Linked DNA regions of Homo sapiens. The protein of the gene in region 1 purifies or fractionates together with the protein of each later gene. This does not show direct contact. Each region holds a gene or a part of one and is shown on either strand. Other genes may lie near its edges.

Region 1 (3,654 bases):
ATCCTGTCACCACCAACCTCTCACAGGAGCAGTGAACGGGGCTTTCCTTGCTACACACTGACTAGAAGCACACCTGTGTATGGAAGAATTCAGTGTGATATTTTACTACTGAGAGTAATAATAATAAAAGATGTTTAAGAATAATTTCAACTACATTCTCAGTCAGCAAAGCAATCATTAATGGATTCCTATTTTATTCCCCAAAGAGGAAAAAAGGACTGAGAAGTTCCCATTGGCTTCTCCCATCTGCCTTCCCTTCTCAGCTTTCACTTCCCATGTGGCTGGGGACATGCACGATGGAGAAGGTGAGAGGCGGTGATACCAAGTAACTGAGTGAGATAAACAGCAGTTCCTCTCTCTCTCCCTCCGGAGGGCCCCGGGGGGACGGAGAGTTCCTGATGGATTTTTCTTTTTGTTGCACTGCGAACATTTCGTGCACACTCAGCGGGCTGGTGGAATACTTACACCCTCTTGACAGCGAGAAACAGAAAAGAGGGCTGCCACCTGCAGGGGACTGTGTGGGCCAGTCCTGCAAACCCAACATGCCATGGTTTATGGAGCCTTCATTCCCAGGTTGCCACTTTGGCCTCAGTGTGGAGGGTTCATGGTGCCTTGTCCCCGTTGCTGTTTCTGCTTCTGCTGCATTAACAGCTGCTCCAGAGCAGAAGGTCCAGGATGCATCATGGAACTGGACCAGATAGACTGAAAAACAGTCCAGATCTTGTCAGCAGAGGTCAAATGCCAAGTTGTCTGAAAGGGATTTTTCAATCCCAGCCAAATATAAAGGCATATATATGGCCCCAAAACCCAACCCCACTCCCCATAAAAATCCAGCTATTAGAAAAAGTCATTATAAGACTCTTAAAGCTAGTTAGTTTCCATTAAGACTATTTTAAACCAGAAGAAGTGAAATCACATTTTATGTCAAGTCTTTTTACTGAAACTCAGCTGTATGTGGTACCACACAGGGCATTTACTATAAAGTTTTCAGGCAAATAAAACATTTCTAAAATTAGATACTCTTATTTTGTCAGAAAAGGCTTAAATCAAACATTCCAAAATGAATCAGAATTTTCTTAACCTTAGAATGAAACTAAAACCTTTGTTTTTGTCCTCCTGAAGATACTGCTTTACCACTAGTGAATTCAGAAATTAAAAATTATCACTCAAGAATCTTGTAAGGCAGACCATGTTTCTAGGACTTTGTTATATATGTGCTATGTATCAGTCAACTCCGAGGGCCTGAGAAGTCTAGCTATTTATGTGAATGAAAGCAGAGACACCTTTGCTGTAATAATCTTGTGGTTCTTGTTCCTGAAATCTACTCACCTTTAGGCTTTCCATGAGGACAGCAGAGGAATCCTCCATGGAAGGGCCATGGCCTGTCCAGGTGCCACTCGGAGTGCTGGCCTGATGCCAACTGCTCTCAGAGGATGACGTTGCTGAGAGATAATCAATGCCAAACCCACCCATGGCTAAGGGATGAAAAGAGATAAGAAAAATTCAAGAAGATGTTCTATCACTGCCAATTGCCAGACCCCAGGGAAGGATAGAGTAAATTCTTTCAATTTTGCCTGGCAATGAAATGTAGATCTCACCTGGCTTATCAGTTTTCCACCGATCTGCAGTCCTTCTATCCCTGTTATCTGGAGTCCCAATGGGTCCAAAATTGGAGAATGGAACAGAATTATGGTTGTGTGTTGGAGGAGAGCTGGGTAGGCTGCTTGGGTTAGAGGAATGAGGAGACTGGCTGGCTGGTGTTGAATGATCTATTAAATAATAGCAACACAGGATATAGTAAATCATTGTTTCACAAACATACAAAGAACTACAGGTTCCTGTAGATCTGATCACTAAAATTCTACTAACAATAACCACAGGGCTTTGAAGGAAAGGGAAACTAAAGGCTCCAAAGAGATCTGCTAGATGCACTAATTTGCCCTGCCACACATATCTAAGGCATATTCTTCGCCTTAAAAAAGCAAAATAAAATAGTAGGCAATTTTTGTCAACTGAATGAATGCCCTATTCTCACACGGCTATTTCAGATACATGTTTATTGGTCTTATGTATCAGAAAGAATTTGCTAACCTTAAGAATTACTATTAAGTCAGACTCTAAGTTAAAAATCTCAATTTTAAAAAGTGCAGAGCTGGGCACAGTGGTGTGCACCTGTAGTCCCAGCTACTTGGGAGGCTGAGATGGAAGGACTGCTTGAGCCCAGGAGTTTGAGTCTAGAGTGGGCAACACCACAAGACACTGTCTCAAAAAAAAAAGTGCAATTTTTCTGCAAAGAATGAACACCTACAAATAAAACTAAAAAGCAGCTGAGAACCATAAGATAGAACCTCTATTTTCTCCCTTACATCTCTGCTGGCTACTGAGGATGTAAAAAGTTTTGTCAGTAGCATTTATTACATAAACCGGCTTCTTCTTTTTTTTTTTCTATTTCCTTTCAGAAGTTACAAAAACAAACAAACAAAAAATAAAAATAACCCAACAAATGATATATTTGTAATTACAGAATCTCACTATCCCTTAATCAATCTGAGTGTACAGGAAATGTAAGGTCTATAATTTAAAGAGTAGTTAATACCTGAACTGGCAGGAAGTGATGGAGACCACGGAGTCCCTTCAAAAAGGGAATACAGAGATGTTTCCTGGGGGGCCATTGAGGGACTGAGTTCTGCTTTGGAGCTGGATGTCAGGTTTTTCCCATATACCTCATTGAACATACTATTATTTGGGTATCTTTCCTGAAAGACATGACAGTGAAGTTATAAACTCACCCCAAGGAAAGAGATTTGAGAAAATCCAATGTCTTGTTCATGGATGCTTGGTACACCTTAAGCTTTTCTTAGGAAGAGAAATTTTGAAGGCTTTTATTTCTTTTTGTTTCAATTTTCCAGTCAAATTAATTTTCCTCTTTGCTTTCTCTCACCCTTAAATTTGCTCTGTGTAAACTATCCAGGTTGAAAATGTGAATAATTTATTTGGCTCAAAAAGAGAGCCCTAAGGGTTTCAATATTAATGAGAAGTTAAAGGGTTTTAATTCATGATGTACAAGTCACTAGTATGCCCCAATCAGAGACAAGGGGGATAAAATCAAATATCTGGAATACACTAATACATGGAAAATAAAGAAAAAACAGACATACTGAAACAGTATGAGAAAGACAATGATCAGTCTACACTAAAAGCACACAGCAGGATTCTTCATTGTTCACCTACCTGATTGAGAGAGAATCCGGTGAGGGACAGGAAAGAGGATGAATGTGACATGAGCTCTGAGGGCTTCTCCAATAAGGATTTCTTCACAGTCCCAGAAAAAAAGGTAATTAAGTTATACCTTCTATTTTCTTAATATTAATCTTACCATACTATGGAACCAAAGCAAAAGCATGCCTGTATTCGCCCACTGAGTACAATTTGAGGCTCAGAAGATGTGAATTCAAATCTGTTAACACCAAGACACCGCCTAAGTGCCAGTTGCCACAGGTGCATAGAATCCTCCTTTTAGATCAAACCTAGTCAGAGATTATATTCTGGCAGGGACCAGAGACCCTGGTAAACAGCACTCTGAGTGTTTATGAGGCATGGACCTCAGGAATCCCCTTGTCAATAGTTGCACTTAATCTCAAAACAAAATGCTGA
Region 2 (3,654 bases), on another chromosome or scaffold:
TATTTTTTTATTTTATTTTTTTAGAGACAGGGTCTCACTCTGTCACCCAGGCGGGAGTGCAGTAGCTTGATCATGGCTCACTGCAATCCCAAACTCCTGGGTTCAAGCAATCTTCCCACCTCAGCTCCCAAGTAGCTAAGACTACAGGCATGAGCCTAATTTTTTTTTTTTCTTCCTTTGGCAAGATCGGGTCTTGTTGGTCTCAATTTCCTGGCCTTAAGTAAAGTGTCATATATTTTTTATCACTTTGTAAAAATAATACAAGAGGTAGCTGTAGAGCCCCAGACCTAAAAAAAACTCTCTGGCCTTCCTCTCCTTCCCTAAGTACAGGAAAAATCACTTTACTTTTAACAAAATGACCAACACAAAAGGATCATGGCCAAATTTCAACAGTTATGCAAGAAAGACGAGCAGAGGAGCAGAATAACATCTTTATGGATATGAAAGAGACAAATTATTTCCTAAACTGTTACTTAATTCATAGTTATTGTTCTTTTTAAGTAACAGTAAGCTTCATGTAAGAATAGGTTAATTCAACTGTAATTGGGTGGTAAAATATTGTTCACATTTTTAATGACCCTACAACATTTCACTTTTAAAGGTTTGTAATTGTAATCAGGTATTATTAATTTTGATTAAAATTTTAAATTTCAACTAAATTTCTTATAATAACCGATGTTCAACATTTCTCTTATAATATTAATAACAGATTGAGGATAATGGCACAATATTTCCTATATTTACATACACATATCATTATTTTGTATAGTGATGTTTGAAACAGTGACTAAGCAGTACTTGGTAGGCAGAAAACAGCAAATTCAACATGACAAGTCATGTTTACTCTAGAAATGCAGAACAGTTTTGTTTTGCCTTTTTTTGGAGATATAGTCTCGCTCTGTCACCCTGGCTGGAGTACAGTAGTGCAATCACAGCTCACTGCAACCTTGAATTCCTGGGCTCAAGCAATCCTCCTGCTTCAGCCTCCCAAAGCACTGGGATTGCTAGCATAAGCCACTGTGCCTAGCAAAAGTTTTAATATTAGAAAATCCAGTAATATAACCTATGATATTAATGAACTAAAGAAAAATCATAAAAGCATATTCATGGATGAAAAAGAAGCATCAGACAATATTTAACACACATTTGTGTTAAAGACACTCAATAAAATAGGAACTTGAGAATATTTTCTTACCATGATCAAATACATACACCTCAGACCAAAATCCAGCAATTAATTATGGGGAAACACTAAGGCTTTACTTCCAGAGTCATGACATGGACATCTGCTATCTCTATTACTATTAACCACACTATTGGAGGGTTGGCCAACATAATTAGAGAAGAAAAAGTATTTAGAGCCATAAAAATTGGAAAAAGGAAAAACAATTTACAGATTACATTAATATACATCTAAAAAAACTCAAACTACCAAAATACAATTAAAAACAGTAAGAGAATTTAATAACATAGCAAGATATAAAAGTAGGATATGTTAGTAACTCACATATATAAAACATTCAGAAAATATAAGACTCCATATATAGTAGCAAAAAATAAATTCATAAATGTAAATTTATTTTGAAATATGGAGACTGAGGAAAGAAATCAGCTGAGAATATGTACAGCGAATTCACAAAACAATAAAAATGAGCAATAAAGGAAAAATTTATCACACTCACTAAAGAAGAACAAAACACTATCTTCTCCACTCAAACTGACAAAGATTAAAACAAATTATCCTCAGTGTTGGTAAATGTCACGGAGAAATGAGCACTCCCAAACACTGCTATTGGTAGTATAAATCTATACCCTCTTTCAGATAGAGAATTTGGCAAAATATATCAAAAGCATTAAATGATGGCATATTTATTATCACAAAATCTCACCAGTAAGAATGTATCCATATATATAGAAAAAAATGCTTGGATGGTAAAGTCTAAACTGTTATTAGTAGCTGTCTCTGGATGGTGGGAATATAGCTGATATTATTTTCTTTTTTATCTAAATATCTGATAATGAACATATGACTCGGTCATAAGAACAATTATTTTAAAATCATGTAATTTCTGATTTTAAATCACGTATTTTTATTCATCTTGTTCTAAAATATCAAATGGATGGCACAAATAATCCTCTTTCACATAAAATTCAATTCCATTAGACTATAAACTCCCATGAGCCCAGAGATCAGGCTTCTCTCCTGTTCACTTTCATAACTCAAAAAAAAGAGAGAGCACTAATGCTTGGCAGCTTCATAAAAAGAAGTCTTTTGATCACCTACCTTTAAAATCCCTTTGAGAGTTTGTTTCAAGTTGTTGTGATTGTGCCACTGTTTTCAACATCTCCTGAATGACTACTCGGTCACTATTTCCAGCATCACTACACAAAACAAAAATAATGGTATATAGTATGCCCTTAATATTGTTATTATAAGAAAAATGGTGAAGTTCTTAAGTGGTCAAAATTTTAATCAAAATTAATATCACTTAACTATAATTATAAGCCCTTCAAAAGTAAAAAGTTTTAGGGTCATTGAAAATACTAACAATATTCCAATTGGATTAACATCACTGAAAACACTAAATATGTTGTTACATTAAGTTTACTGTTAACATAAAAAGAGCAACTACTAATAATTAGGTAACAGTTTAGCAAATACTTTGACACTTCTGTACCGACTATAGAAAATTAATACCTAATTATAGCTAATTTCTCAACTATCTATAATTGTTGAAAATACAAAACGTAACTCTTTGAAACAGAAATTCAATCCCTAGTCCTCTTCCACATCCCCAAAATAGCAAAGATCTAAGAGAGAACAAACAAAGAGAAGTCTGCTCCCAGCACTAGAATGAAACTGATTCAGAGACTCAGTAAAGCGATGAGATAAGCAAATTGAGTTTAAGACACAAAGTCAAAACTCCGTAAACTGATGACTTATTATAGGTATTGAGCTGTCATTTACACCAATATTATTGCTTTGGCACTTCAGTCAAAGACCTCTCAAGCCAAGAGAAGTCAATTTAGGCTGATTCAATGTTAATTTCAATCACCCCAAAAGCAATCGGCTTATTCTCCAATTGCTTATCTATGCTTCAGAAGAACTCACGATGAGAAAAACAGGTCAAAGCAGTTAACTTTATTTTCTCAAAGAGCCACTAAGTTTTCCCAAGTCACTACTATTATTATAGATCAATATACCTACAGTGTTGCTCTTACGATCATTTTCCTAGCCAAGAATCCAAAACATTCTCCATTTGTATCTGGAATTAACATTCCCTTTGTTTCTTTGATCAAACCCATTCCCAACAACCTTATTTCTCTTAGTTTTCTTTGAGATGCCTAGAGAAAATAATAAAACCTATCTGTTAGGGTTGTTTTAAGGATTAAATGTAATAATACAGGTAAAGCTTCTCACAAAGTGCCTGCTACTGAAAACAAGATACACATTAGCTTGTAATGGTATTCCTCCTGCTCCATTCGGTCTCCTCCCTCTCCCTGAAATGGATGTTCACTCTTGCCTCTATGTCACTGCCCATGTTGAATATGACTGACAATATCCTCAATTCTGTTCTCCTTTAAGAACTCATACAGCCCCACAGATCATAGCAGCTTACCCAATTTAGCTCCCAGAATCATTTCTACACCACT
Region 3 (3,654 bases), on another chromosome or scaffold:
GAGATAGATATACCACCACTGAGGACAAAGAGGTAGTATCTCTGACCTACACACCTATTTCAGGGGATAGTTCTAGTTGCTCTAAGCCTGCAAATTTACAAGTCTGTAAATTAAGACCTGATAATTTCAGCCATGGAGCGAAAATCTTGGCTTTTCGATCACATCCATAGTAAAATGTCAAATAAGGAGCTCTAGTTACTGTTATGCACCAAGAACATTTCTCATTCAGGTCCCAAAATTTTCCTACATCTGGGGAAATTAGAAAGAAAAGAGCAGAATGAAAATGATGATGAAAAGATTTTAATCAAGATCCATCTCCTCAATAAAATTTTTTTCAAGCATTTAAAACCAGTTGTCTTTGGTGTTTAAAGGGTGGCTTGTTGGGCAGCTGGGGAAAGGGAAGGAAGATCAGCACCAAGTTACTCCAAAATAGAAAACAGTAAAAATGTTTAATTATATTAACTCTTTACCAAAGAACTTAGAGCTTAACGGCCAAAAGGCAACTGAATAGGCATTGGGGAAGGATTCACTATTAAATTCTACAGTAAAAGGAGCTTCTAACAAACAACATTTCCTAACACCTTCCCACCCTGTAACAGCAGCTGGGAGCCAGCAGCAGTTTGAAGCTACTTTCCAACTTTTGAATCTTTTATTGCATGCAGTTCTCCTCTGTGAGATGAGGTTTTTTTTTTCCTTCCCATTTTGGTCACTCAGAAACCCTAGAATTAAAGCAATGGGAAGAGACAGAGTAGCTTGTAGTAGTAGTAAATTAAACGTCCAAAAGAGGTGTACGGGAAAAGCAACTTGATTGACTTGTCACACTGTCCCCATCATCTCCTTTTCTATTGGGATAACAGAAACAAATTGCTCCATTTGTTAATCTGTTCTGCTCATTTAAAACGATACCCATTTTGCAATAGAAATTTCTCTTAAACAGAGGAACAGAAGTTGATCCATAAGTCTTTAAACAAGAGGTCTCCCTTGTAAGTCACTGACGTTTGTTTGAGAGTCCCTCTTTTCCCTGAGGAGGGCTCCTCCAGAATTTGGTTCTTATTTCAGTATTTGGGGCATTGCAGGAACCCACTGGGTTCTGACAAGCAGGGTATCAGCTACATCTGCTTTGCACTTGAAAGACAGACAATGCCCAGAAGCACAAGTTTTGTACCCAAGTCCAGCTTACAACCAACCAATCCTGTAAAGTGACACAGATTCTACCCCACAGTTCTGCAGTGGGAGCCTTAAATTTTCATTCTTTGGTACCGAGTTACAGGTTTAAGAAAAGACATTACATCCTACATTTCAGGTTGGGACAATTTGGTTTCTAGATCCTTTATGGTCAAAGGCCTTGGGGGGAGAGGGGGCGGGGGGATTCATGTTAACCATGAGGTCCTAAAGCATGGCCTGGGTGCAAACAATCCTATAAAAAGTGACCCAAGCAGAGGGTGTGGGACTGGGCTGTTGGTATTAATTTGACTTTCAAACCTTCTATTTCCCTGAACTTTCAAAGCAGGAAAAAATTGTGCTTGTAAAATAAAAGTTCTTTCCTTTGCCTACTCTTCTTAGGAAAAGAAACCCCTAGCACTACAGAACAACATGCACTCGCGGGTCAGGGCAGACCCTGCCCTTTCTGTGGAGTTCCTATAGTTTGGGGGTGCCTTGTTCTTTAATGTGCTCCCTGACTCCCTCAGCACACGCATGTCCACCCACATTCATGTCCACGTCAGCCCATGCCTGAAAACCCTCTCTCTGAGAACGAGGTTAATTTCCTTTTTCCTTCCATTTAACCCTTTATAACCTAACAGCAAAATAAGAAAGCATAACTTTTGAGAATATGTTTAATCAAAAATCCTGAGCTACCATCTATATACTTTTTTAAGAAACCAAAGTGTGAAAAGGAGAGGTTCTTTGGGAGGCAGTGTGTCATTTTCAGCTTTACTACTTGGGTGCAAGATGGCTTTGAAACAAACATGCACACACCCTCCCTTAAAAGAAACAAAGATTATATACCCTAAAATATGAAGGGTCTGCTTTTCTTGGCTAGCAAGCCACAGCCACAACGTCTAAGATCAAGAAACGATGCAGAAGAGGATGTTAAACACACTGAGGTATAAACAGAGAACAGAGGAAATTTCTCTGTTGCAGCATTTAAAAAGAGAAGATTTTCCAAAAAGATCAAAACAACACAACATAATCTAAACCCCATATAAACAGTATTCTCAAGAACACAGGTATTCTATAATTATGCATTTCAAATCCTATTTTTTCCATGTTTTATAGTTTTTTGTTTTTTTACTTAGTAGTTTTTTTTTGTGTTTCCTTGGCTCAATCTACAGAATACACCCCACCACACACATCCAGTGCCCTCCCAGCCATACAGATGCCAGGCTTGTGCATATCATGCCCCACGCAGGGGAAGAGGGAAATGCAAACTCCACTGAGGAGGGGAAGAGGGCCTGTTGCAGAAGGAAATGTAAAGATTTATGAGGTAGATAGAAATTATCACTTCACAGGCTCAATCCCTGCAGAAAAGATAAGTACATTCATCTGTAAAAAAATAAAGATGAGGTAGGACTTAAGCAATGTTGTACTTTTCTTGTTCTCTTTAAAAAAAAAAAAGAAAAAAGAAATTTCCCTGAGACTGTTTCTTCTTTGAAATTCAAAAAGAGAGAGAAAGAGAAAGAGAGAGAGAGAGAGAGAGACACGCACACACACCCCAAACACAGAAACCTAGGAAATGCAATTAGAAGACGAGGATTCGATTGTTGCCAAAGTCCACCACAACGATCATTCCGTCGGGGGTGATGGCGATGCCGGAAGGGCGGTCCATCTGCCCAAAGCCGCTGCCTTGAGCACCAAACTTGCACAGGAAGCTGCCGTTGGATTCAAACATCTGTACCCGATGGTTCCTGGAATCCGCCACAATGATGCGCCCTTCCTGGTCCACAGCTACCCCTTGTGGGCGCAGGAACTGCCCATTGCCTGTGCCCTCCGAGCCCAGAAAGCGTGCCGACTGGCAGTCGGGGTGAATAACCAGGAGCCGGTGGTTGTTGAAGTCAGTGACCACCAAGTGGCCCTCATGGTTGAAGGCCACACCCCGTGGGGAGTCAAAGTGCTTCCAGAGAGCCCCCTCGAAGCCATACTTGTTTAGGAAGACACCATCAGGCCCAAACAGCTGGATCCGGTGGTTCCTCGTGTCTGAGACCAGGATCTTGCCCTCAGAATTCACCGCCACATCCCAAGGGTAGTTGAACTGCCCATTCTTGGTTCCTTTCTCACCAAACTTGAGGAGGAACTGGCCCTCGAACGTGAAGATCTGGATGCGATGATTGTCCTTGTCAGCCACCACGATCCTGCGTGAGGCGTCACAGGCCACGCCGGCTGGTCGGTCGAACTGCCCAGGCCGGGAGCCCAGGGTGCCGAATTTGTGGTGGAAGGCGCCGCAGGGCTTGAACACCTGGATGCGGTTGTTGCTGCGGTCGGCGACAATGATGTAGCCCTCCTTGTCTACACTCACACCCCAAGGGCGGCAGAGCTTGCCATCGCTGTCACCCTCACTGCCGAAGCTCAGGCCCGGGAGCCCAATGCCCACGTAGCTGCGGCCTGACTTGACCACCACCTTGAAAGGGCTGTTCTCAATGTGCTGGTTGCACAGTG

The links.
Region 2: the proteins of SMG7 (region 1) and RFC3 purify together in Homo sapiens (affinity purification with mass spectrometry, with the first as the bait; one study listed by BioGRID). This does not show direct contact.
Region 3: the proteins of SMG7 (region 1) and TRIM71 purify together in Homo sapiens (affinity purification with western blotting, with the first as the bait; one study listed by BioGRID). This does not show direct contact.

Annotation. Positions count from the first base shown.
Region 1 is NC_000001.11:183,548,866-183,552,519, reverse strand, and holds part of SMG7 (nonsense-mediated mRNA decay factor SMG7), read right to left. Parts: intron 3,313-3,654; coding exon 3,232-3,312; intron 2,757-3,231; coding exon 2,597-2,756; intron 1,770-2,596; coding exon 1,599-1,769; intron 1,476-1,598; coding exon 1,330-1,475; intron 703-1,329; coding exon 589-702; 3' UTR 1-588. UniProt on the Homo sapiens protein: Plays a role in nonsense-mediated mRNA decay. Recruits UPF1 to cytoplasmic mRNA decay bodies.
Region 2 is NC_000013.11:33,824,517-33,828,170, reverse strand, and holds part of RFC3 (replication factor C subunit 3), read right to left. Parts: intron 2,383-3,654; coding exon 2,285-2,382; intron 1-2,284. UniProt on the Homo sapiens protein: Subunit of the replication factor C (RFC) complex which acts during elongation of primed DNA templates by DNA polymerases delta and epsilon, and is necessary for ATP-dependent loading of proliferating cell nuclear antigen (PCNA) onto primed DNA.
Region 3 is NC_000003.12:32,890,898-32,894,551, reverse strand, and holds part of TRIM71 (E3 ubiquitin-protein ligase TRIM71), read right to left. Parts: coding exon 2,741-3,654; 3' UTR 1-2,740.